Homo sapiens: one gene and its partners. The protein of the gene in region 5 purifies or fractionates together with the protein of the main gene of each other region. This does not show direct contact. Each region holds a gene or a part of one and is shown on either strand. Other genes may lie near its edges.

Region 1 (2,325 bases), on a different chromosome or scaffold from region 5:
ATTTTAAGTTAAGCACTTTACCTTTTAAATGCCACGTTAAAAATGAAATATATTCATAACAGATACTAACGAGGAAATATGGTCCTATTAAGTGGAAATAGGTTATAAGGAAACAAACAGGTTTATCGTTAGAGCAGAAATAATGTTGAAAGCACTTTTTATAAAATACTATTTTATAAAAGCTATAGAAGCTTTGAATAAATCAGTTGGGCTACAGAGAACCTCAGTGAGAGGAGAGGAAGAAACCATAGGTTTCCCCTGTTGCGAATTTCATCCCTTATGCCCAACAGATGAAGCAGAGAGAAGCTGAGAGCAAAAGCTAGAAAGCAGTTTCCACTTTGCGCTAAGGTGGAGGTGGCCAGAGGGTACAGCATGCATATCATTGCTTCATCGCTTCTGATCAGTCTCCTCCCCAAAATGATTTAATATCATCAACAACAATAAGTCTGAAACAAGCTCACACAGATATTTGGTGTAAATTATTTGGGGATTGCCAGAGGAAGAAAGTTGTAAAGGTGAAATCTATAGAAAGCAAATGAGAAATATGCAGGAAGGCTTGACAACCATTCTGTTACGCAGTTGAAGGAGATGTAATTACATGTGTTATATTGCAACCTGGTTCAAGGTGGGTTTTCTTTTTATTAAAAATTCAAGTCCTTTAGCATTTATATTTGCTGTCTGGATAAGAAAGTTCTACTTTCATATTTAAACTCATGGCTGTGATGTGGATTTCAGCTTAAAAGTATGCTTTTTCCCCAGACTCCAGAGACATGGCCAAAGTTTCATTGCCTACAAGATGGCAGCTCTCCCCAGTTTTCAGGTCAAGCACCAAGAAGGAATAAGGGGCCGGGCGCAGTGGCTCATACCTATAATCCCAGCACTTTGGGAGGCCAAGGCAGGTGGATCACCCAGGGTCAGGAGTTGGAGACCAAAATGGCGAAACCCTGTCTCGACTAAAAATACAAAAATTAGCTGGGCATGGTGGCACATGCCTGTAGTCCCAGCTACTTGGGAGGCTGAGGCAGGAGAATTGCTTGAACCCGGGAGATGGAGGTTGTAGTCAGCCGAGACTGTGCCACTGCACCCCAGCCTCGGCAACAAAGCAAGACCTTGTCTCAAAAAAAAGAAAAAAAAAAGAAAAAAGGACCTTCCAAATGTCCAAATGTCAGAAAGGCAAGCCTATGCAAAGAGTTTTTAAGAGGGCTATTAATTCCTGTTAAGTCAACTGGAATAGAGAAGGATACAGGTACTTTTCCTGTGTGTAGAACCCAAAGTTTGAAACCACCTTTGAGGCACTGCACTAAGTATTTCATAGTCAAAAAGCACTTACCTGAAAATTAAAGCTGAAGGTTTTCTTTACTGATTTGAAGGGCATCTGGGAATTTCATTTCGTAGAAACTCCACTTAAACATGGCAAGAGTTTCTCAAGATATAAAAATTCTCCCTGATTGTAACAAGTACTGAGACAGTGAACAAATCCTGTATGTCACATTTGATGACCTTAGCAATTATACAGACAGGGAAAATGTTTATCTTGATTTCTGCTACAGCAACACTGAAGCCAGAGGTGTCTGAGCTTTGGCTAATGTCACTTGATGTAGGTCAGCCCTACTGTGAGCGTCAACCCTGGTTTCTAAATGTGCTGCTGGAGGAATCCCACTTCACTTCCAGTTTAAGTGTCAGCTGAGGCCTCGCCTGATCATTTGATTCAGAGTAGCCCTAGTTCTCACAACACTATCTGAATTTTCTACATATCACATCACAGACTAATATTGTTTATACCAGTCTTGTTTCCTCCTAATAAAATATAAGTGCCATGAAAGAACAGACCTTGTCTTTTCCTAGAACAGGTCCTGACACCTCTTAGATCCTCAGTAAATCTTTGTTACATGAATGCATTTGAGCTTTCACTCTCTTGTTCTGACCTTCCCCACATTGTATTTAAAACCCAAGGGCTTCACATCAGGATCTACAGGTAAGAGAAGAATTAGGGAAGCCCAGCTGACCCTCGGATTGGATCCACAGCGATGGCACGGGGATTCACCAGATCTGTGTAGAAGAGGACCTTGCGCTCAGAGCCATCCAGCAGGGCGCTCTCTATCTTATCCAGGACACTGTCCGTCCAGTACATTGTTCTGCGGATGTGGTCTATGGCAAGTCCTTCAGGGCTTATCAGACCTGGAAATAAAGCAAAGTCAGGACTGGAGTGTTTGCAGGATATGGAGGGCAAACCTGAAGCCCTCCAACGGTCGGGTGGGCAGGGGGGTCAGCAGGGGAAAGCAAAGCCCAAGTGTCTCCAAGTCCCCAAGAACCAGGTTAATAGAG
Region 2 (3,500 bases), 6.9 Mb from region 5:
GGAAGTTAGGTATGTAATTATATACAAATTATCATTCTAGATGACCAATCTAATATGGTATCTAATCTAATGGTATCTTTGATGTTCTTAAATTTGTGTTCCATAAGACATGGAGAAACTGTAATTAGAATGATCTGTTTTAAAGTAATAAATCATTTTGACTATGAATCAAATGTGTTTATTTAGATTTCTTTTGTTTCAATTGCATTAAGCATCAAGTGTCATAAATAGTCCCAGTATAATACCTTCATAATAGCTTTCTTAAAGAAATACTATAATTTTGGCATAATACTAATTTTGGTTTTGATATGAATATTAAGTCATACTTTAAGAATACATCTCAAGTGCCTATCCATTATTTAATATTTTACTTGTATTTAATAGGTTATTAAAGAAAGTGGACCACCACATATGAAAAGCTTTGTTACTCGAGTGTCAGTAGGAGAGTTCTCTGCAGAAGGAGAAGGAAATAGCAAAAAACTCTCCAAGAAGCGCGCTGCGACCACCGTCTTACAGGAGCTTAAAAAACTTCCACCTCTTCCTGTGGTGGAAAAGCCAAAACTATTTTTTAAAAAACGCCCTAAAACAATAGTAAAGGTAAGTTTATATTTGTGAACATCAGTCAGTTTTACTAAATAAATATTATAGTAGCTATAGATAAGCATTTTTCTATAAGGCAGATCCCTGAACTTATGGACTATATACAGTCCTGAAATGAGGGCAGGACATGTGACTATAAATTAATGACAATTCTATTTTGCTTTTTAAATACCTGTGCACCTGCATTTGTACATCAAATAATCATAATACCTTAGGTATTTATGTATTTCTTTGTTGTTTAAAAAGTGCTTTACCATTCATGTCACCTTTACTATAATCCCCCTCATGACCGTATAAGGTAGATGATGTTAGCCCTCATTTTACAAATAAGATTTTACAAAACGTGTTCAAAGAGTTTGCCCATTTTTATTCAGCAATCATGTCAAACCTCCTGAACCGCTCTGATCTCTAATCCAGTGTTCTTTCTGCACACATGGCTGTTGCATAGTAACTTCTTAGGATATCATGAAATGGTAACAGGATACACACAAAAAAATCATGTGACTAATACTAACAATGATAGCTACAGCAGCTGGAAATCATAAAGCAGTCTATGTGCCAGACTTTGTCCCAACACTTTGCATGCTTTAATCACATTTAATCCACATAGCAACCATATGAAGTAGATGGTGTTATTTTGTTGCCATTCGTTCAGATGTGTATACCTTGCCAAAGAAGAATATAGAGCACACAGCTTTTCAAGATATTGTGACTCTTTTATTGGGTCAGAATTTATTTACATTAATAAGAGAAGCAAGGTAAATATCAGAGGAATGAGATGAATCAGCATTTAGTACAGGACAGTGCCTGTGAATGCTTGACACGTATGACATGTCTGGAGCTAGAGTTCTGTGTTTCCAGAGAAAGCCTTAAATTGCCAGCATTTTAGTTGCTGGCTCAGCCTCACTGATTTAGCAGCCTTCTTCTGATCAGGCTATACAAATGAAGGATTACAGATAAGAAATATATTTAATCTCAATGGATTTCTTTTGATTGCACAATGGCACAATTTAGGTATTTTTACAGGTTTTATACCTTTGTACCTTTATTTAAAATACATATATACATATATACAAAAATAACTACTTAAATATTTGTTTTTAATGAATACTGACATGACTTCACTTAGAAGATGTAGTAGGTAATGCATTCCCTGAACTGGAATTATATGTTATATGTAAGGTAGACTAAAAATAAATACAAATAGATCCACTTATCATGAGTCATAGTGGTTCCAAAGAGGACTGGCACTTTCATTCATATGCTCCTCCTACACAGTCAGGAGTAGAATATAGCTATTAAGAGAATGAACTTTGGAGTCAGTTCTGAGTATGAATCCCTGTGGCCTGAGCAAGTTACCTAACTTTAAAAATATTTCTTCATTTATAAAGTGGGAATAGTAACTGACCTTGCTGTATGGGATTGTTATAAGTATTAACTGAAACAATGCACAAAATGCATTAGTAATTATTAAGTATTCATTGTTATTAATGATAATGCAAATACTATAATAAATAACACATATTAACTATTGGTATTTTGTATCTAATACTACCTATTCACATTTTATGTTTATGTGAATATATCCATGAACTGTTTTCTTAAATCTATTAATATATAAAATCTATGGCTTTTCTGTGATGGAGGAACAGCATTTTATGTTGGAATGGTGGCACAAAACTGGTCACATAACTTCTGTCTGCTCTATTAAACTAAGTTTTATCTTGATAAATTAAGAATAATAAACCAGGCAAACCAGGCTGGGCACGGTGGCTCATGCCTGTAATCCCAGCACTTTTGGGAGGCTGAGGCGGGTGGATCATTTGAGGCTAGGAGTTCGAGACCAGCATGGCCAACATGGCGAAACTTGGTCTCTACTAAAAATACAAAAATTAGTCGGTTGTGGTGGCATGCGTCTCTAATCCCAGCTACAGCTCAGGAGGCTGAGGCATGAGAATCGCTTGAACCTAGGAGGCAGAGGTTGAGGTGAGCCAAGATCACTGCCACTGCACTCCAGCCTTGGTGACAGAATGAGATTCCATCTCAAAATGATAATAATAATAATAATCATAATAATAATCATCATAATAAACTGTTAGGCTGGAAAAGATCTGTACATTTCTATAGTAGGATATAAATCTAACTCTTGTTTTAACTATAGCTATTAAAAGCAAGATTATTATTTAAATGTTATTCCCCAGAGGTGGGAGACAGGAGAAACATTTTGAATTCTCAGTTATTTGCTACTGCTTCCAGTATATAAGTAATATTATCCCAGAACTTCCCTCCTATGCATCATTCAGATCTCAGCATAAACTTGACTTTTTTAGGAACTCCTCTGGTCCTCTCCTACTCCCAGACTAGGTTAGCCTCCTGCATTTTTCCTCATATACATCACACTTGGAGTTACTTTTGCCATGTCTGTCTTATGTTAAAATAAAGCTTGTAGATACCCTCTGAAATGTAAGATTATTTTGAGAGAACAACATGTGTATAATGAGTTGGAATCTAGATAATTTTAAGTATGTTCATACCTTATAATATGTCAGTAAATGGATCAGCTTGGAATAGTATCCTGATTTTTAGCATATTCCTCACTTCCTTGTATGGCTTATACATTGAGGGTCTATAGTTTGTTACACTCAATGGAAGCAGGTAAAATATCTATGATTATTTGCCTTGGTTTTATTTAAAGTAATAAAATAATCACATTGTCTCATTTGATCACTTAATCACTCTGTGATGCAGCATTCATTTCCATCTTACAGATGAGGCCCTTTATATTTAAGAAACCTATCCAAGATCCTGTAGCAGAATCAGCTTTCAGATCCAGTTGTCACATCTGACTCCAGTGCCCATTTGATATTGGTTAATTGTGAACTTTTGGATTTTCAGAGTCA
Region 3 (3,500 bases), on a different chromosome or scaffold from region 5:
GTGAACTGCCAGTTCTCTGGCTGCCTAGATACTTTATGTCTTACTGTGGGACCCATTGGTCTGCACTTACGTGGTTTGTCTTCTGGTCTTGTCTTAATTTGACTTCCTAGGGTCATTGATGAAACAATAGGCTATTTTATAGGAATGTCAAGGAATTGGTAGCTTATGATACCTTGCAGTAGAAAAGTGTGTGTTTTTGTTTTTTTTTTAATTTCTCTGAAGCAAACGGCCAGTGTTGGTTCTTCAGAATGAAGCACTTTATCCACAGCGGCGGTCCTACACTAGTGAGGATGAGGCCTGGAAATCCTTCCTGGAAAACCCTCTCACTGCAGCGACCAAAGCGATGATGAGCATCAATGGAGATGAAGACAGCGCCGCTGCGCTGGGCCTGCTCTATGACTACTACAAGGTGGGTTTGCCTGCCTTTAAAACCCTTAACAGCAGTCTCCAATGCACTTGATTCAGCAGCATAGAAACAGACATTTGCTGGTAGAATGCCATGCAAGTTGCTTCTGTAGTGACTATAAATAGTTTAATGAGTACTTTGACTTACTGTGATTCGAAGCTAAAAATCTGTGATTGTAGAATCAAAGGGTTGTTTTTAAAACATGCAAAGCGGTCAGCTGCTGTGGCTCTATCCAGAAGGTGAAGCTACCGTAAAAGAAGATGCTAGATGTGCCTTCTTGGGTTTGAGCATCTCACTGAAGGTGGTTCTTAGTGCCATGGAAAGTGGGCAGGGGTCATTTACCTTTTCACCTTTGTTCCTGGGTAGTCAGGATGATTTCCTTTCCCTAAATGATACTACAGAGCCTTTGAAATCATATTCTGTAGTCTAGGACTGTCCAGTTCCAAGATCAGGATATGTTTTGTTGCCTGTTTCTAGAGATTTGGAGTACTCTTAATTAAATATAATCTATACTCTGCATGGAATTTTACATGATTTTCATTATCTGGAAGTGACACTACTGATTTGTCTCATCATCATTGTCCTGATAACACTAGCTGCCACTATTATGCTAGACATGTTACCAGCCTGCGTGCGACTTCTCACTCAGAGGTCACAGCTAGGATGTGTGCATCTGGGGCCCTAGTCTGGTCCATGGCCGAGGCCACTGTCTTTCTAATGCAGCGTGCATACCGCTCTCCTTCTGGATTCACCTCTCCATTCTTCCTTCTGACCAGAAACACACATTTGGGGGTGGCTACGTCTTTAGGGTGCTACTTAAAACAGCAGACTGAGTTGAAGCACAGCTTTGCCACAGGGCCTTTGTCTCATTGTCACTCTGTGTGACTAACCTGTGTAATCATTGTGTTGTCATCAGTACCTGTATAAAAACAGGATCTGTTTGGGATTACCAGAAGCTTCTTAATGACAGTGTCTTCTCATGAATGTAGTGTATATTTTTTACAGTTTATTTTTGCTATCTTTTTGTTTTAAAAACTTTCAAACCTGCATAAAACTTAAAATAAGAGGATAATTAATTCCTGAATACCTTTACCCAGAATCGCCAGTTGCTAGCCATTGGCTACATTCTGGCACTGTATTCTTTCCTTAATACAAGAAATACAGAGGTGAAAGAAGCCTAGGAGATAGTTTTATTATTAAAATTAGGGTGATTAGCCTGAGCAACATGATGAGGCCCTGTCTCTACCAAAAATAAATAAATAAAAAAATACAGAAATTAGCCGGTTAGTACACATGCCTATAGTCTCAGCTACTTAGGAGGCTGAGGTGGGAGGATCACTTAAGCCTGGGAGTTGGAGGCTGCAGTGAGCTGAGATCATGCCATATCACTACACTCCAGCCTGGGTGACAGAGACAGACCCTATCTCAAAAAAAAAAAATGGGGTGATTATTTCCTAGTATGAGGCCATGCGTCTAACTAAGTTGGGGCTGAGGGATTGAGGTAAGCTCTTTTTTCTTTGAATATGAGCAGAAACTTGTGTAATAACTAATGATGCTAGAAGAAACTCTTACCAGGGAAACATAGCCATGAAGAGTTCCTTTGAAGTGGAAATTATTATATATCTGTTCTTATAGCTTGTTTTATTGACTTACTATAAATTAAGTTCCTAAAACATTAATTATGAAGTTACATATTTTTAACTGAAACTTTTGAGAATGGGAGAAACTCGTTGGTACAAGTTTTGTGCCAGAAAGGCCCGTGTGATAACACTAGGTGTACTACTCCTGCGTCTCAGAAGCATGTAAATCCTCATGTCTGTCCATGAAGGGTGACAATTTTAGTGGTACTTACTTGTCAGACTTCTTGTGATAGGTGTAAATTTATTTTCTTCTTCTTCTTCTTCTTTTTTTTTTTTTTAATAGAAGCAGAGTCTCGCTCTTGCCCACGCTGAAGTGTGGTGGTGCAGTCATAGCTCACTGCAACCTCAACCTCCTGGGGTTGACTGATTCTCCTGCCTCAGCTTCCTGAGTAACTAGGATTATAGGTCATGCCTGGCTAATTTTAAAATTTTTTGTAGAGAGGAGTCTCACTATGTTGCCCAGGCTGGTCTCAAATTCCTGGCCTCAGGTAATCTTCCTGCCTTAGCCTCCCAAAGTATTAGGATTACGGACGTGAGCCACTGTGCCTGGCCTATTTTCTTTTTCAAATAAACTGAATTATTTGTTTCAGGTCTTTGGCTGTATAAGCATCAGTCATTATTACATAATAATTTTGATAAAGCTTGAAAAGCATATTGTTAATACATGAAGCAGTATTTTTTTTTTTTTTGATACAGAGTCTCGCTCTGTCGCCCAGGCTGGAGTGCAGTGGCGCAGTCTCAACTTACTGCAGCCTCTGCCTCCTGGGTTCAAGCAATTCTCCTGCCTCAGCCTCCCGAGTAGCTAGGACTGCAGGCGTGTGCCACCATGCCCAGCTAATTTTTTGTGTTTTTAGTAGAGACGGGGTTTTAACATGTTGGCCAGGATGGTCTCGATCTCTTGACCTTGTGATCCACCCGCCTCGGCCTCCCAAAGTGCTGGGATTACAGGCGTGAGCCACCGCGCCTGGCCAGCAGTGTTTTGTCTTTAATGGTGAAAACAAGGATGCAGGAATAGAATTTTCACGCTGAAAGCCATTTTTAAGCACCTTAGCCATTTTGGAGTGCGCAATGGGGTTAAATCTCAGTTGAGTTATTTCTACAGGACACTCACTAACATTTGCCTACTTTTCACTTCCCTTGCAAAGAAAAGAACCAAAAAAGGAATAGAACACTGAGTTAGACTTGTCCTTTGGGTGATGGACGTATGAATCCCAGCGTATCTAAAGACAGTGATCATATGAAGCCCTCATTTGGATCTTAGAAGAAATGAAGGGTTAACATGGCTGTTCCTTCTGCTTTTGCATTTGATCTGAATGGAGGGTGGTAGGAAAGAGCACTGAGAAAGTTGGAAGAGCTCCGTTGTGTTTTCAGTAGCTTCTTCTCTAATGTTGTGTAGATAAACGAGTAAAACCAGGGCAGAGGTATTTCTTTTTTTCTTTTTTTTTTTTTTTTTG
Region 4 (3,500 bases), on a different chromosome or scaffold from region 5:
GGACCAGATTCGCATCTTTGCTTTTGAAAGCACAAACCACTAGCTTCCTTTTAACTTAGAGACAGTAAAAACTTGTGTAGTGTTTGGCTAATGAGTGACAGTCTATTCAAGGTCTAGGAGGACCTGCTTGATTTCCATGCATCCATTTGTCTCAATCTCTGGCACCTACTCCCAGATCTCCTTAGGGAGGGATTCTGTTTTCAAGTTTTGTTTTGTTCTCCATCATCTACCACTTCAGCTGATACATATCTTGCCATGTGTAGTGATTATGACTCTTAATGGGCTAAGATAAAAAGGACTCAAGTCTTATAAGACATTTAGCTCAAACACCCAAGATTGGCCCAATTTCTATCAAGCTATAGGCTGTTTTTCAAGCCAAATTTATCAGCAACTAGGGAAGACAGGACTTAACGATAGGTGTAAATGCCCTGGAGAGTTGAACATCTTGTTATGGGAACTGATCTTAGCTTTAATACGATCTAGTGAAGTTCAGCCATCCTAGGAAGGATGCTGCTGGGAGGGAGGGACAGGTGTGCTGCCCTACTCCTCCAATCGAATTGCTTTCCTGTTCAGTCACATATGCTCCCCATGCTTAACTTGCCAGGGCTATTTTCTCAGTAGTGGCAAGTGGTCTGTGTCGATTTTTCATATCTAAAAAATAGCATAGTTGAATAATTAGTCATTATACTTTGTCAAATATAGAGATGTGGTTTATTAGAGGGCCTACTCGGGTAGTCCTTGCCACCCATTTATTCTGTGGGTTTGTTTGTTTTGTCCTCTTACCATAGAAACCACCATCATGGGTTCGGGTCCCATAGACCCCAAAGAACTTCTCAAGGGCCTGGACAGCTTCCTTAACCGAGATGGGGAAGTCAAAAGTGTGGATGGGATTTCCAAGATCTTCAGGTGAGTCTTTACCCCTTTTTGTATTCACTGTGAGTAGAGAATATTGTGTGTTAAAACATGGCTGCAGTTGAGGCACACTGGAATGATCCTGGAAAGGAAAGGGAAAGATAGTCAGTGCAATAGGATTAAAATGTAACAATTTTAGGATAAGGGATAGGAAAAGATGATCACTTGTTTCTGACCATAATGGAAACTGGAGATTTGGACGTCCACGGTCCCAAGGGAGTCATGCTTTGGAATGAGAGCAGGGTAGCCTGGTAACAGAATTCTAGATTGTTTTGGTTCGTGTTCCACCTACCCATAATGTTATTTTCCTTCAGGGATTCTCAGGTTTTTCAGGGGAGAGTAAATAACTAAGCCAGTCTTGAACAGACTATTAGGGACAGTTGTTGAGGGATAGCCTTATCACCTGGAGGCAGAATGGAATTCATCCTGTGTGTTACGGAGGCAGCGATGCTCTCCTCCCCAGGTCAGAGACTGCGGTGTCTCTGTTCTCCCATAAGTTTCCATGTCACACTGGATCCATCCCATCTTCCTAGAGGTATATGTGACTCCCCTTCTCTGGAGCAAAGTCCCAAGTCATTAGGAATCTCTAGGCAGTTCACAGAGAGGCGCTTTTGCTAAGAGAAGAGATACTGGCTGCTTCATTTCTAACCCTAACTCATCTTCTGCAGTTTGATGAAGGAAGCACGAAAGATGGTGAGTCGATGCACTTACTTGAACATTCTCCTGCAGACCCGTTCACCAGAAATATTGGTCAAGTAAGTGGGGATCTGGATGGTTGGAATGGGAAGGTGTAGCGAAAAGATGGGGCGGTGAGGCATGGGGTTCCTCGGTCATTGATGGGAGACTGGGATTGTAGGATGTGGTACTGTCAAAACCTAGAAAGGGCATTACTGATAGACTCTCCTGCCTGCCTGCAGATTTATTGACGTTGGCGGCTACAAACTTCTTAACAATTGGCTGACGTATTCAAAGACAACCAACAACATTCCCCTCCTCCAGCAAATTCTACTGACCCTGCAGCATCTACCGCTCACTGTAGACCATCTCAAGCAGGTACCTTTAGTCTTTAAACCCTGATTCTTCCTTTTTTGGTTTAGTCTAATGGATGAAAAACTCAAACTGACTGATGTGGCTGTAATCTTGGGCCTGTGAGGTAGAACAGCAGAAAAAAAATAGGAATTTAGAAGAAGAAGACTTGGTTTGAATTTATCTCCTTTAATAGGTGTGTGGCGGCTGGGCACGGTGGCTCACGCCTGTGATCCCAGCACTTTGAGAGGCTGAGGCGGGCGGATCATGAGGTCAGGAGACTGAGACCATCCTGGCTGACGTGGTGAAACCCCGTCTCCACTAAAAATACAAAAAATTAGCCAGGCATGGTGGCATGCGCCTGTAGTCCCAGCTAATCAGGAGGCTGAGGCTGGAGAATCGCTTGAACCCAGGAGGTGGAGGTTATTGTGAGCCGAGATCGCACCACTGCACTCCAGCCTGGGCGACAGAGTGAGACTTCGTCTCAAAAAAAAAAAAAAAAAAGGAATGTGTCAGCCAGGTGTGGTGGCTCACACCTGTAATCCCAACACTTTGGGATGCTGAGGTGGGTGGATTGCTTGAGCCCAGTAGTTCAAGACCAGCGTGGGCAAAAATGATAAAACTCTGTCTCTACAAAAAATACAAAAAATTTACCCAGATGTGGTGGTGCATGCCTGTAGTCTCAGTTATTTAGGAGGCTCAGGTGGGAGAATCATTTGAGCCTGGGAGGTCGAGGCTGCAGTGAGCCAAGACTGCGCCACTGCACTCTAGCCTGGGCAACAGAGTGAGACTCCGTCTCAAAAAATAAAAAAAAAAAAAAAAGCAGGGAGGACTGTAACTTTTGTCGTTTTTAGCTCTAAGTGGAATTATTTGCCTCCTGGCATTTACCTTTCTGCTGCTCCCATCTCTCATAGAACAACACAGCTAAACTGGTGAAGCAGCTGAGCAAGTCAAGTGAGGATGAAGGTAGGGTGCCACTTCTGCTCTCTCATGGGCTTTTCTCTATTACTTCCACTTAATTACCTTAATATCTTTTCCCATCCTTGGATTGTCCCTTCACTTTTCTCTTTCTACCTCACCTTGCTTTTTTTCCTTCTTTTAAAGAGAAAGTTCCTCTAACCTGTACCCTCTTTCCTGTTCTCAATTCCAAAGTTGTTCATTTCTCTGTTGCTGAATATAAGGTGCCATACTTTAACTGGAAGCTGATTCCTAAAATTGCTTGTTATAAAACACATACACTTAAAATTTGCTGTGGGAAATAGTATCATCCTAGCGTGTCTCATCTGTGAAACTCCTATTACTAAATGATAAATTATGAAATGAGTTTATAAGTGGAAATGTTGGCCAGAAGAGAGGTGCCATAGATCAGAGATGTTATTTGCCAAGTACAAAAGGAAAGAGTTACAAAGTATTTTTTCATATATTTAGAAACAAATTTTATTCTTGTTTTCACATCTATAAAGGAAAATAAAAAGTCTTCAGATTGTTGTAACAATTAGGTGTGTTATACATAAAGCAACTAACGTAGCTTTTTAAAAAAATGTCAGTTTTTGAGGAACTGG
Region 5 (3,500 bases):
ACTCTAGGAAGGCAACAGTGGAAGTAGGGAGACAAGTTTTTGGTGGCTACTGAAGACAGTCCAGGGGCTAGAGCTCATGATTGATTGGATCAGGGTGGCAATAGTTGTGGAAGATTCTGGATATATATTCCTATTGCCAAAAGGTTCCTGGTCCAAGGAATTACATTAAAGATGGAATTAAATCCAGTGGATATAATTCCTGTCCTTGCTAATCTGAAGATCCTTAGGCACATGTATTATTCTATTTTGATTCTATCTTCTGCACGTTATTTTATTTAAGGATGGAGTTAGAAAGAAATTTCAGGGAACCCTGAGAGCATTCAGTTACCTTGCCCTAATATGTCTGAAACAAGGATCTAGTAATAGAACTTTACATTTTTAATTATCCTATATATATTCTTTATTCTTAGTCTATTTTTCTGTACCAATTAATCTTAAAATTATGTGCCTGTCCTGGATTCGTAATAAGGAGAATATCCCATTTGATAGCTGGGCTTTAGGGTGATAAAATCTTAAGTGATAGAGTAGTTAGAAAAAGCAACTATTAGGAGTTCTGGTTTGAATATACCCATCCTTTAAAAGGGTAATTTCTTGTGGCGTCTGCACAATTAAATGATATTCATGTTTTTTTCTCCCGCCCGCCACCTTTTTTTTTTTTTTTTTTTTTTTTTGAGACATGATCCCACTGTGTCGCCCTGGCTGGAGTGCAGTGGCGCAATCTTGAATCACTGCAACTCCCGGGCTCAAATGATCTTCCCCAGTAGCTGGGACTGCAGGCACACACCACCATGCCCAGCTAATTTTTAAAATTTTTTTGTAGAGATGGAGATGGAGTTTCTCCATGTTGCCCAGGCTGGTTGCAAACTCCTGGGCTCAAGTGATCCTTCTGCCTCAGCCTCGCAAAGTGCTGGGATTATATGCATGAGCCACTGTGCCTGGCCCATGATTAATTTTTTTAACTGAATTTCTTCTACTATAGTTGAATGGTATTTTGTTTAATTGTGATAATAAAGTAGGAAGACATCTCAATTTTAGACTAAAATACAGTTTTATTTAACTCATACTATGAAATTCTATCATAATGCCTGTAGGATATAAATATAATTTCTGTTTTCTGACTCTGATGAGAGACAGATCTTTATTACCATTATTAATTCAGAATTTTTACTTGTACTAGGTACTTCACATGATTTCAAGTATGGTTTGATGCCTGGTCCTTCAAATGATTTCAAGTATGGATTGATACCAGGTACTTCAAATGATTTCAAGTATGGATTGATACCAGGTGCTTCAAATGATTTCAAGTATGGATTATTGCCAGAATCTTGGCCAAAACAAGAAACCTGGGAAAATGGCAAGTATTAGTCAACTAAACAAATACAGAATTAATTAAATAATTGTTAACAATTAAAAGCTTTCATGTTCTGCATTTTTTAAAAACCAAGTAGCAGTAGCTCCACATAATTGCTGTTCTCAGAGATAGAGATAAGAAGTTTTGATAGCAAGTTTTCTGTTTAATGTGTAATAAGCACTTTCTCTTTTTTTAATTCTCATAGGTGAATCATCTCTAATCATGAACAAGTTAAAATGCCCTCATTGTAGCTATGTAGCCAAATACAGACGAACACTAAAAAGGCACTTGCTCATTCACACAGGAGTGAGATCATTTAGCTGTGATATTTGTGGAAAACTGTTTACTCGAAGAGAACATGTAAAAAGACATTCCCTGGTAAGTAACTTTAAATACAGCTGATCTTTGAGATAAACTATATTTATGTCAGTGAAGTTTAAAGGGATTTAAACAGTTAATTGTGAATTTAAGGAAGATTGTCTCCTAAATTGCTTTAAACAGTTTGACTTTATGAACTGATAGTGAGCTTTTTACAGAGAAACTGGTGTATTCACTCACTATTAAATGTGTGGTTTAATTTGAGTGGTTCAAATGCATTCTATTATATATAATATCCTTATATTGGATTTTTTCCCCCTCCAATTAGGTGCATAAAAAGGATAAAAAATACAAATGTATGGTGTGTAAGAAGATCTTCATGTTAGCAGCCAGTGTTGGAATAAGACATGGATCTCGACGTTATGGTGTTTGTGTAGACTGTGCAGATAAATCACAGCCAGGAGGGCAAGAAGGTGTAGATCAGGGACAGGATACAGAATTCCCTCGGGATGAAGAATACGAGGAGAATGAAGTAGGAGAAGCTGATGAAGAGCTAGTTGATGATGGAGAAGATCAGAATGATCCCTCTCGATGGGATGAATCAGGAGAAGTTTGTATGTCTCTAGATGATTAACTGACCTACTATACTCCTCAAGGATGCTGCATTTGGACCTAATATGAATCGACAATTTGGATTGTTGAACTTGAAGGCTTGCAAAATATGGTACATGCTGGATAGTAGTTATGTTGCTGTGAAAACTGTAGGGTCAAAGCCTTATAGCAAAAAAAATTTTTTTTTATATTTGCACAGGACTATACAGCAAACAACCATGTGGTTGGATTACATGGAGTCCCCACATACTCAGTCAGTTATCAAAGTAAAATATTTTTTATTTATAGGATATACAGTAACTATTTGGGTCCTATGAAAATAGTCCTTAAAGAGCTTACATTCATGTGCTACTTTAACATGAATGGAGAAAATCCGTTTATGGAAGTACAGTGACAATTGACCCAATCACTCTGTCCATCAAACCACTCAGGCTAGTTTGTACTAGTAGAGTTTTGTTTCTATTTTTATTTTTATTAATTTTATTTTTTTTAATACAGATTTTCAGTGAGGGGCTTTTTCAACCCCATTGGTTCTATTTTCTTGTATTTTTCCATTTAATTTGCTTCATAACTTAAACCAAGTCTCTTCTAGTCTTAGGTATTATTTCTCGATTTTGTGCTGATGGGCATGTTTATAAGAACTGGAGAGGTAATTTATTGGAATGAACTAACTGACTTCCTCCATTCCCCTCTTCCTTTTTGACATGAATTTTACTACTTCACAAATGAAGAATGATGTTATGAAGTTACCGTGGCGAAGTTGACAAATACCACTAAAATGATTATGATTTAGAAGTAACTTTCTTCTGCTGCTCTAATCTGATAAATGGTTACTATATGATATTTTCTGACATGGTATTTGGTTTTGGGTATCTGTTACTTTGGCACTATTCTTGTTTGCCTCTTTATTTTTGCCAGTGTACTATACCTCAGTCCTATTTGAAAGACCTAATTGAAAGAAAAATCATAGAAATAAGTAAAATGATTTGTTTTATAATTTATCCACCATGTCCAGTTTGGTTAGCTTGTTATGCAATATAAGTGAAATATCAGGTTTTTACCCGTGTCCCTTTTATCATGAAAATTAACACAAAATGTGCATTCTCTTTTGTTTCATACTTAGCGGGATATTGATTGTTTTGAAATTATGATCAATACTTAATTTATTTTTTTCTGTCCTTGAAGTCACTACACCTTGATACAGTCTTTCTAGTAGTCA
Region 6 (3,500 bases), on a different chromosome or scaffold from region 5:
CTCCTGCGGTCCCTCCTTCCCTGTCTCTCTCACCCCTGTTTCCACACCCTCACCTCCTACCACCCCCCTCAGCATGTTCCCTGGAAGCTGAGGGTCTCTGGGGCTCAGTCCCGGTCTCTCTCTTTCTCTCTCTCTCTCTCTGTCTCCCCGACCCTTCCCCCCAGCGTGTTCCCGAGGGAGCTGAAGGAGGTGTTTGCTTCGTGGCGGCTGCGCTGCGCAGAGCGAGGCCGGGAGGACATCGCAGACAGGCTTATCAGCGCCTCACTCTTCCTGCGCTTCCTCTGCCCAGCGATTATGTCGCCCAGTCTCTTTGGGCTTATGCAGGAGTACCCAGATGAGCAGACCTCACGAACCCTCACCCTCATTGCCAAGGTCATCCAGAACCTGGCCAACTTTTCCAAGTGAGGGAAGCTTCAGGAGTGGGCAGGGCAGGGAGTGGCAGGGCAGGGAGTGGCAGGGCTGGGGGTCGGCAAGAAGGGTCTCCTGAGTCCCCAGAGATCCTGAGATGGGGAGGCTATGATACCTTGTGTGTGTGTGTATGTGTGTGTATGTGTGTGTGTGTGTGTGTGTGTGTGTATGTGACCTTTATCTTCTGCATTCTTGGCTAGGTTTACCTCAAAGGAGGACTTTCTGGGCTTCATGAATGAGTTTCTGGAGCTGGAATGGGGTTCCATGCAGCAGTTTTTGTATGAGATCTCCAATCTGGACACGCTAACCAACAGCAGTAGCTTTGAGGGTTACATCGACTTGGGCCGAGAGCTCTCCACACTGCATGCCCTACTCTGGGAGGTGCTGCCCCAGCTCAGCAAGGTCAGCAGATCCCCTCTTTGCCCTATCCCCAGATGGCTCCAGAGGTTCCTGGAGCCTGAGAAACTACCCTTTGAAGATTTTTTTTCTCCCCTTGTTTCTCGAGGTGTCACCACTACTATCCCAACTCAGGCCCCCTCCACCTGCACCCTCAGAGGCCCTCTTAGAGCTGGGCACTGAGCCCCCAGGTAACAGCCTCACCCTTCCAGGAAGCCCTCCTGAAGCTGGGTCCACTGCCCCGGCTCCTCAACGACATCAGCACAGCTCTGAGGAACCCCAACATCCAAAGGCAGCCAAGCCGCCAGAGTGAGCGGCCCCGGCCTCAGCCTGTGGTACTGCGGGGGCCATCGGCTGAGATGCAGGGCTACATGATGCGGGACCTCAACAGGTGAGCACCCTGGGACAGCCAGGCCTGTGCCCTAGGAGCCCTTCTCCTATTCTAGATACTCCTCACTGGGCCCCACATGCATCTCTCTAGGGCTTGAAAGAAGGGAGGAAAAAGCACCAAGTTCTCAGGGGAGACGATAAGGAGACAGGTACAGTCAGTGGTAGGCTGAGAGCCCTTTACAGCCTGAGGGAGTGAGAGATTTGGAGCTCTAGGAATAGGGCTGAGGCTCCACCAACTCACGGCTTAGTTGTAAGCCTAGAGCATCCCTGCTGCAAGCTCTGATTTGCTGTCCCTCTGCCTGCCCATGCTAGTCCCCAGGCTGAGGTTCAGCCAGCATGTCATGTCAGCCATGTGTCAAAATGTTCAAACATCTCAGTAATAGCTAGTGAATAAGCACTTCCCCCAGCCCCCGACCACAACCCCACAGACCTCCCCATGATCCAGCACTTAGAGCAGTGACAGCAGAAGCCTAGCAGGGCCTGCAGCCTGCTCCAGAGTCCCAGCCTCCATTCTGATAGGTGGTGCCCGTGCTTCATTTGCTGCTCATTATTTTGATGATGGCCCTGCTTTTTCCTCTGCCCGTGTCTTCCTCCATGACACCATACCCATCCCACCATTCCCGCCTCTCCTTTCATTTGTCCACATCTCTCTCCTTCTCTGTCTGTGCTCGCCCCTCTTTCCATCTCTCTCCAGCTCCATCGACCTTCAGTCCTTCATGGCTCGAGGCCTCAACAGGTGAGGGGCTCTCCCCTCCCCCGCCCTCCTCTCCTCTCCTGTCTGTTCCCTCTCCCACTCCACTGGCCTTCGCCCTACTCCTCTCCTCTCCTCCTCCATGGACCTCATCTCCTCCATATGTGCCCAGCCCTGCCCCCATCCCTTCTCTTGCTGCCCCCATCTCCCCTCCTCTAGGCCTCACCCCCTTCCCGGAGGGGCCCTGTCCTTTCCCTTTACTCACCTGTCCCCTCCCATCCTCCCTGCCTGCCCTCTTCAGGGCTGCCACCGCTAGCTCTCAGCCCTTCCCTCTGGGTCCCACTTTTCACCCCAAGGCCTGTGCCAGACCACAGCAAGGTTCAATTGCTAGGAGCCCTGACCTTACCTTCTGCTTGTGTGCCCCCTTCCCTTCTGACAGCTCTATGGACATGGCTCGCCTCCCCTCCCCAACCAAGGAAAAGCCACCCCCACCACCGCCTGGTGGTGGTAAAGACCTGTTCTATGTAAGCCGTCCACCCCTGGCCCGTTCCTCACCAGCATACTGCACGAGCAGCTCGGACATCACAGAGCCAGAGCAGAAGATGCTGAGTGTCAACAAGAGTGTGTCCATGCTGGACTTACAGGGTGATGGGCCTGGTGGCCGCCTCAACAGCAGCAGTGTTTCGAACCTGGCGGCCGTAGGGGACCTGCTGCACTCAAGCCAGGCCTCGCTGACAGCAGCCTTGGGGCTACGGCCTGCGCCTGCCGGACGCCTCTCCCAGGGGAGTGGCTCATCCATCACGGCGGCTGGCATGCGCCTCAGCCAGATGGGTGTCACCACAGACGGTGTCCCTGCCCAGCAACTGCGAATCCCCCTCTCCTTCCAGAACCCTCTCTTCCACATGGCTGCTGATGGGCCAGGTCCCCCAGGCGGCCATGGAGGGGGCGGTGGCCATGGCCCACCTTCCTCCCATCACCACCACCACCACCATCACCACCACCGAGGTGGAGAGCCCCCTGGGGACACCTTTGCCCCATTCCATGGCTATAGCAAGAGTGAGGACCTCTCTTCCGGGGTCCCCAAGCCCCCTGCTGCCTCCATCCTTCATAGCCACAGCTACAGTGATGAGTTTGGACCCTCTGGCACTGACTTCACCCGTCGGCAGCTTTCACTCCAGGACAACCTGCAGCACATGCTGTCCCCTCCCCAGATCACCATTGGTCCCCAGAGGCCAGCCCCCTCAGGGCCTGGAGGTGGGAGCGGTGGGGGCAGCGGTGGGGGTGGCGGGGGCCAGCCGCCTCCATTGCAGAGGGGCAAGTCTCAGCAGTTGACAGTCAGCGCAGCCCAGAAACCCCGGCCATCCAGCGGGAATCTATTGCAGTCCCCAGAGCCAAGTTATGGCCCCGCCCGTCCACGGCAACAGAGCCTCAGCAAGGAGGGCAGCATTGGGGGCAGCGGGGGCAGCGGTGGCGGAGGGGGTGGGGGGCTGAAGCCCTCCATCACCAAGCAGGTAGGTGAAGGCAGGAGGAAGGCGGGCTGGGTCACAACAGGGAGGGAAGAAGGAGATGGGGGGTGGGGTTGAAACAGAGTCTGTGGCCTGAAGTTACAATCTTC
Region 7 (3,500 bases), on a different chromosome or scaffold from region 5:
GACGTAGGTGCAAACACAACTGGAACTATTCCATAAAATATTCATACATGTCACCACTGTGTAATTTCTTCCTACACCCTGAATGGAGGCTTCCTTTAAACTTTAAATGAAAATTATAATTGAGCTTGAGTCACAAAGAGTTTACCTCCCCAATAATGTTAATTATGTCACTAGATTTCATCCTCTTGCATCCCTACTCACTGAAATTCTTCAAGATTTCTTAATGTGAGGCAGGATAATTTAATTTTATAGGGAAATGCAATTGTGAACATGGAAAAGCATTATTTGGAGGTATACCCAAGATACTTCTACAAGAACAATAAGCTAAAATGCTAAATCATTTCCATTTACTCACTAACTAAACAACCTTTCATACCAGGAGCTCAGAGTCTGGAGGTGAAGGGGAAGGTGAAGACAGACAATAAACACATATGCAAATAAGCAAAGAAGATTAAGTGTAAGTCATGATCAGTGCTGAGAAGAAAATAAATTCAGAGCTGTGACACAGACTACAAACTGCAACAAACTGCAGAAACAAACTGCAACACAGATCATCTATAAACATACATAGCAGATTGACATCAAAGCCTTTCTAGGTTGCCTTTATGACTTCTTGACATATGCTTAGGTTCCGAGGATCAAAGCCCCTCAAACTTACCTGTTTCACTTTCTAGAACTAAAGCTAGTCTGTGACATCTCTAGCAGAAAATAAGGCACATCGACCATTTCACAGCACCTCTGCAATTAGGCTTTTGATTATGTGGTGTGATAACTTATCCACACTGAAACATTTTCAAAAGAGAAAACAGATTATTATTATTATTTTGTGTTTTTTTTTTTTTTGAGACAGAGTCTCGCTCTGTTGCCCAGGCTAGAGTACAGTGGTGTGATCTTGGCTCACTCTAACCTCCGCCTTTCAGGTTCAAGCAATTCTCCTGCCTCAGCCTCTCAAGTAGCTGGGATTACAGACATGCACCAGCACGCCCAGATAATTTTTGTATTTTTAGTAGAGACGGGGTTTCGCCATGTTGGCCAGACTGGTCTCGAGCTTCTGACTTCAGGTGATTCGCCTGCCTCAGCTTCCTGAAGTGCTGGGATTACAGGCTATCATTGTTATTTTTTAAGACAAGGTCTTGTTCTATGTTTCAGGCTGGAGTGCAGTGGCATGATCACAGCTCCTCTTGGGCTCAAGCAATCCCCCTGCCTCAGCCTCCCAAGTGGCTGGGACGACAGACATGCATGCCACCATGCTTGGCTAATGCACTTTTTAAAATTTTTTGTAGAAATGGAGTCTCCCTGTATTGCCGAGGCTGGTTTTGAACTCCTGGGCTCAAGCAATACCCCGGCCTTGACCTTTTGGAAATGTTGGGATTACAGGCCTGAGTCACCCTGCCCAGCCGGGATGTTTTTAATAATTATGCCAGAGCAGGCACAAACAAGGACTTTCCACCAGGGCAAACTAGGCCATATGGTTACCCTAATTATATACCACATCAAATGTAAATAGCCAAAAATTTCAAGAGTAGTTTATAGTTCCAGATATATTTAAATTATAATATCCAAGCCCTAAATTATAATATGGACAATATAAACCAAGTGAATCCCTTACTAAATATAAAGCTCTGAATATCTCACATTGTACACAAAATCAATTTCAGATGCATTATAAACGTCAATGTGAAAAAGCAAAGCACAAAAAGGTTTAAAGATAATCAAAGTATCTCTATGATGTTTTAAAAAAAGAAACACTAGCCATAAAAAACTGATGAACATGTTTACATTAAAATGAAGAACTTCTGTTAATTTAAAGAAACTACTAAATGGAAAAAATGTTTGCAATATATACATCCAACAATGGAGATATATTCAGAATACAGAACTCTAGAAAAAGACGTGTTTCGATTTAAAAAAGGAAAAGATTTCAAAGGCATTTTATGAAAAATGAAATCCAAACACCCAGATATGAAAAGCTGGTCAGCCCCATTTAGTAATGAGGGAAATGATTAAAACTAAATACAACTACATACCCACCAGGATTGGCTAGAATTGAAATATATGATACCACGTACGGTTGTTGGTAAGGGATATGAAACAAGAACTCTTACATACTAATAAATGAAGTAAAAACCACTAAACAACTACTTTGAAAAACTACCTGGCATTACCTGATAAAGACCAACATTCCCCATGTTCTTGCAATTCAAATTCTAAGTATATAATCTCAAGAAAACGAAATAAACATGCACCAGTGCACTTAAACAGAAATGTTCATAAAAGCATTGTTTATAATAGCCCCAAACTGCAAACAATCTAAATGCAATATCCAAAACAATGGCAGAAGGAATAAACTTGTGTTATATTCATGATGGAATATTATGAAACAATAAAAGCTAAAAATAAAATATATACAACACAATCCTATTTACATAAAGTTAAAAATGGGCAAAATTAAACTCTATTATTTAGAGATGTAAACTTATATGGTAAAACTATAAATGTCAGAAGAACATTTATATCTAGCTTAAATTAAGATGGTGATAGTTGTGATGGGAAAATATAGGTGGTGGGAGGCTTCTGGGATGCTGGCAATGTCTGTCTTGCCCTGGGTGGTGGTTACAAAGATGTTTGTTTAAAAATATTTCATTTTTATCTTATGTATCTTTTCAGCCTGTGTAGTTAGGTTTCCCAATAACACTCTCCCTGAGAAATTAAAAAAAAAAAAGTTCAAAAGAGAATGCTAAGACTGTTACTCAAAGAGATTAACTCTTAATCCATAGTTTAAAAACAGTAACAGGGATCTCTACATCCAAATACACACTGTATTATAAATTCCATGAATAAACTTTTGGCTTCAGGCCGGGTGCAGTGCCTCACACCTGTAATCCCAGCACTTTGGGAGGCCAAGGTGGGTGGATCATCTGAGGTCAGGAGTTTGAGACCAGCCTGGCCAACATGGTGAAACCCCGTCTCTACTCAAAATACAAAAATTAGCCAGCTGTGTTGGGCGCCTGTAGTCCCAGCTACTCGGAAGGCTGTGGCAGAACTGCTTGAACCCGGGAGGTGGAGGCTGCAGCGAGCCAAGATCGCACCACTGCACTCCAGCCTGGGCAAGAGCAAGACTCTGTCTCAAAACAACAACAAAAAAAAACGAAAACAAAACAAAACAAACACTTTTGGCTTTAATCTTTTAGACTACCATTCTTCGTTCAAATTTTGAAATGGAAGGTGAAATTTTCTGATATCGAATTACTCAACAAGTCATGTAAATTTTAAAATTTTAAGATTGAACTCCTTGCTTCTAATCTTGAAATCTGAAATGTGTCCAGTATTGACTAGACAGTTATAATGTAGTTTTCGATTAGATAATATCATGTAGACTAATATATAAAGGTTTGATAATGTCAGTTTTTGCGAACATAATCAAATTCCCCAAACTGGTTACACATTTAACTCATGTTGCTTAAGAAAAAGCAGCCGGGTGCGGTGGCTCATGCCTGTAA

What was found.
Region 1: the proteins of ZBTB10 (region 5) and RTRAF purify together in Homo sapiens (affinity purification with mass spectrometry, with the first as the bait; one large-scale study listed by BioGRID). This does not show direct contact.
Region 2: the proteins of ZBTB10 (region 5) and STAU2 purify together in Homo sapiens (affinity purification with mass spectrometry, with the first as the bait; one large-scale study listed by BioGRID). This does not show direct contact.
Region 3: the proteins of ZBTB10 (region 5) and GRHL1 purify together in Homo sapiens (co-immunoprecipitation; one large-scale study listed by IntAct). This does not show direct contact.
Region 4: the proteins of ZBTB10 (region 5) and PPP1R10 purify together in Homo sapiens (affinity purification with mass spectrometry, with the first as the bait; one large-scale study listed by BioGRID). This does not show direct contact.
Region 6: the proteins of ZBTB10 (region 5) and SYNGAP1 purify together in Homo sapiens (co-immunoprecipitation; one large-scale study listed by IntAct). This does not show direct contact.
Region 7: the proteins of ZBTB10 (region 5) and LSM14A purify together in Homo sapiens (affinity purification with mass spectrometry, with the first as the bait; one large-scale study listed by BioGRID). This does not show direct contact.

What each region holds. Positions count from the first base shown.
Region 1 is NC_000014.9:52,008,870-52,011,194, forward strand, and holds the end of RTRAF (RNA transcription, translation and transport factor protein), read left to right. Parts: 3' UTR 1-1,825; downstream 1,826-2,325. Other genes in the region: NID2 (nidogen-2), read right to left, coding at 2,007-2,178. UniProt on the Homo sapiens protein: RNA-binding protein involved in modulation of mRNA transcription by Polymerase II. Component of the tRNA-splicing ligase complex and is required for tRNA ligation.
Region 2 is NC_000008.11:73,610,841-73,614,340, reverse strand, and holds part of STAU2 (double-stranded RNA-binding protein Staufen homolog 2), read left to right. Parts: intron 1-384; coding exon 385-597; intron 598-3,500. UniProt on the Homo sapiens protein: RNA-binding protein required for the microtubule-dependent transport of neuronal RNA from the cell body to the dendrite.
Region 3 is NC_000002.12:9,954,693-9,958,192, forward strand, and holds part of GRHL1 (grainyhead-like protein 1 homolog), read left to right. Parts: intron 1-222; coding exon 223-409; intron 410-3,500. UniProt on the Homo sapiens protein: Transcription factor involved in epithelial development. Binds directly to the consensus DNA sequence 5'-AACCGGTT-3'.
Region 4 is NC_000006.12:30,607,244-30,610,743, reverse strand, and holds part of PPP1R10 (serine/threonine-protein phosphatase 1 regulatory subunit 10), read left to right. Parts: intron 1-788; 5' UTR 789-799; coding exon 800-906; intron 907-1,580; coding exon 1,581-1,667; intron 1,668-1,829; coding exon 1,830-1,965; intron 1,966-2,852; coding exon 2,853-2,904; intron 2,905-3,500.
Region 5 is NC_000008.11:80,517,226-80,520,725, forward strand, and holds part of ZBTB10 (zinc finger and BTB domain-containing protein 10), read left to right. Parts: intron 1-1,177; coding exon 1,178-1,354; intron 1,355-1,556; coding exon 1,557-1,729; intron 1,730-1,997; coding exon 1,998-2,303; 3' UTR 2,304-3,500. UniProt on the Homo sapiens protein: May be involved in transcriptional regulation.
Region 6 is NC_000006.12:33,440,565-33,444,064, forward strand, and holds part of SYNGAP1 (ras/Rap GTPase-activating protein SynGAP), read left to right. Parts: intron 1-164; coding exon 165-401; intron 402-608; coding exon 609-810; intron 811-1,016; coding exon 1,017-1,195; intron 1,196-1,888; coding exon 1,889-1,930; intron 1,931-2,324; coding exon 2,325-3,396; intron 3,397-3,500. UniProt on the Homo sapiens protein: Major constituent of the PSD essential for postsynaptic signaling. Inhibitory regulator of the Ras-cAMP pathway.
Region 7 is NC_000019.10:34,175,504-34,179,003, reverse strand, and holds part of LSM14A (protein LSM14 homolog A), read right to left. Parts: intron 1-3,500. UniProt on the Homo sapiens protein: Essential for formation of P-bodies, cytoplasmic structures that provide storage sites for translationally inactive mRNAs and protect them from degradation. Acts as a repressor of mRNA translation. May play a role in mitotic spindle assembly.